Homo sapiens: one gene and its partner. Changing the gene in region 1 together with any one later gene gives a genetic interaction. Each region holds a gene or a part of one and is shown on either strand. Other genes may lie near its edges.

The links.
Region 2: changes in RAD54L (region 1) and PFDN5 together harm fitness more than expected from each alone (negative genetic interaction), as found in Homo sapiens cells (one study listed by BioGRID).

The regions. Positions count from the first base shown.
Region 1 is NC_000001.11:46,246,045-46,250,639, reverse strand, and holds the start of RAD54L (DNA repair and recombination protein RAD54-like), read right to left. Parts: upstream 2,878-4,595; 5' UTR 2,235-2,877; coding exon 2,232-2,234; intron 2,129-2,231; coding exon 2,042-2,128; intron 641-2,041; coding exon 521-640; intron 1-520. UniProt on the Homo sapiens protein: Plays an essential role in homologous recombination (HR) which is a major pathway for repairing DNA double-strand breaks (DSBs), single-stranded DNA (ssDNA) gaps, and stalled or collapsed replication forks.
Region 2 is NC_000012.12:53,293,953-53,298,376, reverse strand, and holds the start of PFDN5 (prefoldin subunit 5), read right to left. Parts: upstream 2,836-4,424; 5' UTR 2,810-2,835; coding exon 2,738-2,809; intron 2,539-2,737; coding exon 2,436-2,538; intron 2,134-2,435; coding exon 2,102-2,133; intron 528-2,101; coding exon 453-527; intron 333-452; coding exon 227-332; intron 1-226. UniProt on the Homo sapiens protein: Binds specifically to cytosolic chaperonin (c-CPN) and transfers target proteins to it. Binds to nascent polypeptide chain and promotes folding in an environment in which there are many competing pathways for nonnative proteins.

The DNA of each region.
Region 1 (4,595 bases):
GTATTCCTACTTTTCCTTCAAAACATTCCTCATAAAGCTTAGTGGAAAAGCTTTGGAGATAGACAGATCTGCTCCACCCACTCTGAGCAAATTACTTAACCCTTCTGAGACTGTTTTCTCATCTTAAAACGTGAGAATTACATGAGGCAATGCACAGAACCTGCCATGGTGGTGATTAAGTTTGACTTTACTAGAGGAAATACATGACTCTGGTACACCTTAAAGTCATATACAGAGTCAGAGTCTGAGCTGACATGAGGATCCTAGTTCCTTTACCCTCCTTTCCTCAGGAATCTGAACCATCTGATATCTGGTGCCCATGTAGCTACTATAAACCAGGCACAAGTCAGGCACACCTCTCTAAGCAGGCCCCAGCAGCTGTGGGCAGGTCCAAAGCCCCTACAGATGTGTGTCTTCTGGCCACTCTAGAAAGCACTGAGGGAGTGTACAGGGACAGGAGTCTACCTAGGCTGAGTGACTGGGCACAGACATACACATGCAGGTTGCAGTTCTGGCTTACATGCTGACTGCTGTCCAGACAAGGTGGTTGATTGGTTAGCTGACTCAAAGGTTTCCGAAAAGGAGACAGGAAACACTCCTGGATCTGGGTCTCACTGCTGGATTTCCGTTTCCTAGGAGTCTAGGAGAGAGAATTGGGAAAGGTGAAGTCTAGAAGACCACAGAAATCACCATAATGGCAACTAACACTTGAAGTGCTTATTAAGTGCCAGGCACTGTGCTAAATTCTTCACACATGTCATAGTGTATCATCTTCATAGCAACTCTATTATGTAGAGTTATTATCCTTATTTAAGAGGTGAGAAAACTAGAGCTTAATGAGATTAAATAACCTGCCTAAACTGAGCGGGGCAATGGAAGAGGTAAATAAAATGGGCCTCTGAAGAGCAAGTCTACCAACAGCATGGAGTCCTGGTGGCCCAAAGCTTCACTCCAAAAGCTCCATGGAATGATGGAGCAACCAAACATTTCGCTGAGTTTCCAAGAGGCAAGAATACAGCTGCCTTCAACTCCCAGGCCACTGAGGCCACTCCCCACTCAGGCCACCCATGGCTGTGAGGACACTGGCACTAAAAGCATCTTCAGAAGCAACCAGCAACTGACAGCAGACCCAGATGCAGAGAATGCTGCCCCAAGTTCAAGTCTGAGACCCATGTACATGGCAAGGGTCAGCCAATGTGCCTCCTTCACAGGTAGAGAAGCCCCTTGCACACCACGGTACAACTATTGAGCAAGCCCCATCAAGCCATTAGGCAAGAACACACTTGTACCAGCTTGCCAGGATATTTGAAGCCTCAGTGATCCTGTAAGACACACCTGAAACAAACACCAGCACCCCTACCCCACACCTTATTCACACACTGCTCCTGCCAAAAAGTGCCTTCTAGTCCTTGCGTAGCTGATCCCTTCCTTCAAAGTTCCAGTGGCCAAGCCCCCACTTCTTGAACTGCTCTTATTCTCTGAAGTCCATGCTGCACTGTCCTATTTATTTTGGTTTACATAGGTCCTGCCCACAGCCAGCCCCAACAAGCCTCCAAAACAGGAAGCAGAGCCCAGGGCCCAACCTAAAGTAGAATATACTGTACTTGAGTATGAGCAAGGACTGGAAGGACACAACCTGTCAGATCTAGGCCCAAGTGAGCCCAGGACTCCAAGGTAGGCCCAGAACACTCTACTGTTCTGTGACACTGGGCAGGGGACAAAGAGCAAAAGAGCCAGCTGCTAATTGCTGTTGTGTAGCCCTTTTTTCCAAGCAGAGTCAAAAGGTCCAATCCAACTGGCTCTTTTGCTTATCTTTTCCCACCAGGAAAACTGAGGCTATATTAGCTTCTAGTGACTACCCTGAGGATAAAGATTTTACTAATCTTGTTCAATGCCTGGCACATAGTAAGTACTCACTAAAAGTTTATTGAACATACAAAAGAGGCATCTGGAATTGGCTATGTAACCCTAGAAACCAAATCCTGGCTTCTTTTCTGTCCAAACAGCTCTACCCACCTTCCCTGTCCCCTTGAGTGCTCACCACTAGGCCAGGTTGCCAGTCTTCATCATCACAGGACCTGCCTTCAGGTTTTCTCTTGGCCAGCTGGCTGGGAGCCAAGCTCCTCCTCTGTAAAGGGAGAACAGAAACAGTGCCTGCAAGGATCCTGCAGCCTAGGCCTACTAGACCCTGACCCAGGGCTATTCCCAGTCTCCCCTAGGCCCACACTTACCATCCTGGGCCTAGGAGTTTAAAACGTCAAGTACCCATGAGCCAAAGGTCAAAAGCAGGCAGCGGCTAAGAGTGTAGGACCAGGGTCTAATCTGTAGAGGGGGCTGCTACATTATTGAGAGGACCGGCTAATTAAAGAGGGGGCATGGATGGCGGGAATCCATCCAGGAACTGGTGTTTGGAACCAAACTGTGAGAGTGGCCGTCCCCAATAAGCCGAGACGAGAGATTAGGCCAAAGAGGAAGAGACCAAGCAGAGATTAGTGTGGGATTGGGGAGGAGGCAGGTGGAGTCCCAGACTGGGCGGAGTGGAGTGGGGATGATGGTCCCAGTCCGGGTGAAGGGAGGAGGTAGTTGCGCGGCGGGGCGGGGTGGGATTGGGGGTGGGTAATCACTGGCCAGGAGAGAGAAGCTGGGGTGAAAGTCCGAGGCCCGGGTGGGGAGGGCGAGTCTGGAGAAAGGAAATTTCCCAGGGCTGGAGGTGGAAACCAGGATCAGACTCAGGGAGGTCGAGCAGGAAGCCACGCGGGCGTGTAAAAAACCCAGGTTAGGAGGGGAATACCAGGAGGGGCTGAAAAGAGCGACAGAGATAGACGCAGACCCCAGCACCTCTCTCTCAACCTTCCTGTTCCCAAAGCGCGCGTTAACAGCCGCCAAGACTCACCGACCCGCCAAGACCGGGTCAATCGAACCTCCCGCCGCGCTGCCGTCGTATCACCCATTGGCTGCGTTCGATGAGTTCGGCGCTCGCGACCCAAGGAAGAGGCGGGAATAGTGCTGCGCCCAATGAGGAGTCTGGGCTCTGGAGCTGGAGAAGCTAAATTGACCTACTAGGAGGCGTGACTTAGATGGGAGGGCGGGGCCAACAGAGGTGGGCGGTTGGGCGAGAAGAGAGGGGCGGGGCGGGGGCGGGGGTGGCGGGGGAGGGGCGGGGCCAACAGCGAGGAGCAGTTGGGCGAGAAGAGCGGGGCGGGGCGAGAAGAGCTGGACGGGGCGGGGAGGGGCGGGGCCAACAGTGGGGAGCGGTTGGGCTAGAGGAGCGGGGCAGGGCTAGAAGAGCTGGACTGGACGCGACGGAGCGGGGAGGGGAGGGGCGGAATTACTACCTGCGAGCTGGAATTCGGCCCGTCTCGGGTGTTTGTCCCAGGTCGGTGAGCTGTGGTCCCGCAGCTATGGAAGGGAAGATTTACGCCACATTGAGCAGCAGGGGAGTTACCACCTGTAGTGGACAGCTGGGGATTATGAAAGGCGGCACATTTCTGGGAGTTTGGATTGAATCTACAGTGGTACCAGGTCTAGAGCGGAGGGCCGGGGTTGGAGTCAGGCCTCGCCCACCCAGAAAGTGGGGAGAGGCATTCGGCCCAGACTGCCACGTGGCGGGCTCGGGCAATGGGAGCCCCCGGATGACGCGACTTTCTCGCTCAGGGGTGTCTTGAAAGAAGCTGCCTTCCTCTCCAAGGCCAAACCGCGTTGGAGGAAGCGTTGTGTTTGGAGTCAGAGATTTAATCATCCAATCTCTCAAAACGTCAGTTTCTTCATATCTAAAGTGGCATTATAATAGTACCTCCCCCCCATGGCTATTCTGACAAGTAAATTAATGTGCGTAAAGCACCCAACAGTGGCATGCACAACCTAGGTACTCACTAATAATGATAAGGGTGTATTTATAGCATTTACCACCAGGCATTTCTGAGCTTCTAAGATATAACAGTTCATGTAATGCTCATGACTATGAGGTAGGTTTATTTTTGTCCCCATTTTGTAAGTGAGGAAACAGGCCTAGATAGGCTAGTAACTTGTACAAGGTCACACACCTGAGTATAGCTTAAGCCATCCTCACAGGGTTATCAAGAATTCTGAGGTCAGGCATGGTGGCTCACACCTGTAATTCCAGCACTTTGGGAGGCCGAGGCAGGAGGATTGCTTGAGCCCAGGACTTCCAGATCAGCCTGGGCAACACGGAGAAACCCCATATCTACAAAAAAATTAGCCAGGCATGGTGGTGCACAGCTGTAGTCCTAGCTATTGCAGACGCTGAGCTTGGAAGCATCGCTTGAGCCTGGAAGGTCAAGCTGCAGTGAGCCAAGATCGCGCCACTGCACTCCAACCTGGACGACAGAGCAAGACCCTATCTCAAAACAAAGAATTCTGGGCCGGGCGCGGTGGCTTACGCCTGTAATCCCAGCACTTTGGGAGGCCGAGACGGGCGGATCACAAGGTCAGGAGATCGAGACCATCCTGGCTAACACGTGAAACCCCGTCTCTACTAAAAATACAAAAAATTAGCCGGGAGCGTTGGCGGGCGCCTGTAGTCCCAGCTACTCGGGAGGCTGAGGCAGGAGAATGGCGTGAACCCGGGAGGCGGA
Region 2 (4,424 bases), on another chromosome or scaffold:
AGGAGCTCCACCAAAGCACAAACATGATTTCCTTCCTCTAAATTTCTCAAACGCTCAACCCAGGAATCTACAGATAGTGATTATGCAATACACAGATTCTAAAGATGCCAAAGAGAAACTAAGACATAGTTTTACTCCAGCAAAGGGGACACCCCCGTGGTTCACACTGCAATCCATGTTCCTTATTATGGAGATAGGGTCAAGAGGTGCCCCAGGAAAAACTTACCCTGTTTCATGGCGTGCTTCTCCTGAAGAGCTGGTTGGATTTTCTCCATCTGCTTGGTTAGAAAATCTATCTTCCTCTTGAAGAAGTCCTTGGCATCCTCAGCTGTCTACAAGATCAGAGGTGAATAAGGGGCTAAAAGGAGACTCCCTCTGGCCATGCTGCGCTCTAGAGCTTCCCCTGAATTTCCCTTCCCTGTTTAGAGGGGCATCCACATGCTCTCACTCACCTTCTCTACATAGTACCCAGTTCCCACATCGATGAGCACGTGTTCCACATCATGCAGCTTCCCAGGGACATACATCTGAGAAGCAAGAATTAAGGGAAAAACTAGCCAGCCCAGCATGAGCCATGATTCCGCCAGCCAGCCTGCTTGGCCTCCAAAGACCCTCTTTTTCCAAAAAGCTACAAGGCATAAGGACTGAATAATCTGGAGGCCTTAGAACAATACCTATAACTCCAAATGGAAAGAAGACAGAGAAGTTGGTTCTTTAAGGAGAAAATGATGTATGCTGGAACACCCTCTTGTCCTGCCTCATCCCATCTCTCACTCTCTAAGCAGTTCTTGCAATTCTTCCCATTAGCCCCTCCAGAAAGACTAGACATGTTTTCCTACTGTTGTAGAGTACTACAAGTAAAAAGCCAGCCTCATTTCCCTTAATGCCCTCAATCATGAAGTAGCTAATTCCTGACAAAGTCAATGTTTTGTTTGTTTTTTGCTTTCTGAGACAGAGTCTCGCTCTATCGCCCAGGTTGGAGTGCAATTGCCCGCTATCGGCTCACTGCAACCTCTGCCTCTCGGGTTAAAGCAATTCTCCTGTCTCAGTCGCCGGAGTAGCTGGGATTACAAGCATGTGCCACCACGCCTGGCTAATTTTTGTATATTTAGTAAAGACAGGGTTTCACCATGTTGGCCAGACCGATCTCTAACTCCTGACCTCAGGTGATCTGCCAGCCTTGGCCTCCCAAAGTGCTGGGATTACAGGCGTGAACCACTGTGCCTGGCTAATTTTTTTTTTTAAACCATTCCCTACTACACACTACTATTCCTGTGTTCCTTTTAGCCTGTCAGTTCTGAGACTACAGATTAAAGATGCCCTACTGCCATAACTTGCTCATTCAAATAAAACACTGAACAAGTGAACACAATCCAGGTTTCTTAGTGACAGTTTAGAAATGAGCCACAATTAAGCTGAAGTTGAAGATTAACAGAGCCAAGCTCCCTGTTTCTATATCCTCCTATTTTTGTCTATTGCCTGTATCTTCTAAGATATTAGCAAAGTGTAAACCACCAGCTTTATCTCCATATTAATGTTCTCAAACAGCAAAGGGAAATATTACATCTCAACTATACATACTCCTTGGTGTTCACAAGACATTAGCTGGATGTTGGTGTGAAGTCAGATAAAAGAGCTACAAAGTGTGTAATAAGAGTATTCTTGGCCGGGGGCAGTGGCTCACGCCTGTAATGTAATCCTAGCACTTTGGGAGGCCGAGGCAGGCGGATCACGAGGTCAGGAGTTCGAGACTAGCCTGGCCAATATGGTGAAACCCCCAACTCTACTATTAATACAAAAATTAGCCGGTCGTGGTGGCGCGTACCTAAAGTCCCAGCTACTCGGGAGACTGAGGCAGAAGAATCTCTTGAACTCGGGAGGCGGAGGTTGCAGTAAGCCAAGATCTCACCATTGCGCTCCAGCCTGGGCGACAGAGCGAAATTCCGTCTCAAAAAAGAAAGAAAAAAAAAAAGGGTATCCTCAAAATCATTGTGAGGAGAGGGTAATCTGAAGTAATCAAAACAATCCCCCTCCCCGCTTTTTGGGGGAGTGAAGGAGAAAGGGAGAAGGCAGCAGGTAGCCGTTCCTGTGGAAAGGATACAGAACTCGTCAGTGGGACGAGTAATTCTTTCCCTGTGAAAGCAATGAAGACAAACACCTGGGGAAGGTTAGCGGCTCCAACGTAAGACGTTAAAGAGAGTTCCAACAGGGCACAGCACCCACAGACAGTGTGAAAAGAACGGAAACAGGGGCAATAGGAGCAGAGGAATGTCCTGTACTTTTCAATTCTAGGCAGGCAACATGCAAAGGGTTCATGAAGCGGTATACGATATGTAATGGATTTTCTCGTTTCAGGTAAGAAAAACTGGGTTAGGAGGTGGGACGAGAGAAGCAGGTTCGCCACTTTAGGTTACCCTCACCCGCCTACCCCATACCCTCGTTGCTCTTGTTCAGCACGTTCAGACAGTCCTTGGCTTCCACATACTTGGTCTGTACCACTTTGAGCTGAGCAATGGACGTGGACAAGAACTCCACTTCCTACAGAGGACCGGGATAGCGGGTCAATGAGAGGACTAAGGGGAGAAAGGAGCGCGGCCGGGGAGGGGGCAGGTCCTGGGATCGGATAGAGGTTTCGCCTGGGAAAGGTAGGCTGCCAACTTGGAACCGGGCGCGAGAAGTACGCGTGGGCAAGGGGGATGTAGAGCAGGAAAGAGGTGCCTCTGGGGCCCGTCCCCACCTGGTCCAGCTGGTTCTTGAGCATTTCTAGCTGCGGCAGATTCAGCTCCGTGATGTTAATAGACTGCGCCATGTTGGGAAGGCCGACTTAACGAAGAGGAAGTCTCTCGGCGAGCAACGCTCTAGCCGTCCTCTGCGCGTCTCGGTGGCGCCGGGAGGCCTCGCTGCGCCAGACAGCTCTATGATCCTCCGTCCCGGAAGGGAAGGAGGGGCTTGAGCCTCTCAGAGACTGTTGTGTGAGTTCATTTCATAAAATGTCTTAAGCCTAGTATTGTAAAGTAGCAGCAAACAGGACTCCTGCCTACAAGGAACTGCAAAATCTTAAAGTTCTCACGACACAACCACGATATTACAAAGTAGTGTATGCTACTCCACGTGGGTGGTATAAGCTACTGGAAAGCAGGCTGGATTGCCATGGCGACGGCTCGGGGGCCTGGCCCTGCTCCTCTCCACCCCGCTTGCTATTGCTGCCTGCTGGTACCCCGCCAGGCCCGATTTCAAATGTTCCTCCCAGCACGGCATGGAAATGGCAGGGAAATTCTAAACTCTTTTTCCCAGATGGCCTCTGAGGCCGAAAGGCAGGAAAAAAAAAAAAATCCCTTGTCAGACCGTTCTGAATTGTCCTTGGAAAAAAACAGGCATTAGATTGAAAGCTTGTCGAAGGCAGGAACCAACCATGTTCTCATCACTGAACCAATTCTTCCCCTCTCGCTATAACCATCTTCCCCCAGCCGGAAGTAGGCTGACACGTAGTAGGATCTGAAAAAGGGTTTATCACCCGTTGCCAGTGAGGTGGTGGGAGAACAGCAAGGAAGCGCCATTGTCAACCAAGTACAGCACAAATTAATCAATAAAATATTTTGGCCGGGCATGGTGGCTCACGCCTGCAATCCCAGCACTTTGGGAGGCCGAGAAGGACAGATTGCTTGAGCCCAGGAGTTTGAGACCAGCTTGGGCAACACGGCGACACCCCGTCTCCACAAAAAATACAAAAATTAGCCGGGCTGGTGGCACACGCCTGTAGTCCCAGCTACATGGGAGGCTGAGGTGGGAGGATCGCTTGAGCTGGAGAGTTGAGGCTGCAGTAGGCTGTGATTGTGCACACTAGCAACAGAGCTAGACTCTGTCTCAAAAAAAAAAAGGTTTTACCATGTGCTGTATGTGAGGGATACGTGAGAGTGTAAGATACTTGCTTCCCTTGAGCTTAACAATTGGAGAGAAAAACCACACTAGAACTCCACAGATCCACAGACTCTACTGCTAAAGTTACACATTGGTAAGTGTAACAGGTGTACATGGGCAGACAGCAGTAGCCTTTAACATCTACTTAGGAGGCAGGCAGGGCAACTGAGGCATTAAAACTAGTGCCATGGCTGGGCGCGGTGGCTCACGCCTGTAATCCCAGCACTTTGGGAGGCTGAGGAGGGTGGATCACAAGGTCAGGAGTTCGAGACCAGCCTGGCCAATATGGTGAAACCCTGTCTCTACTAAAAATGCAAAAATTAGTGGGACGTGGCGGCATGTGCCTGTAGTTCCAGCTACTCAGGAGGCTGAGGCAGGAGAATCGCTTGAACCCAGCAGGCAGAGGTTGCAGTGAGCCGAGATTGCGCCACTGCACTCCAGCATGGGCAACAGAGCAAGACTCTGTCTCAAAAAAAAACAAAAACAAAAAACAAAACACTAGTGCC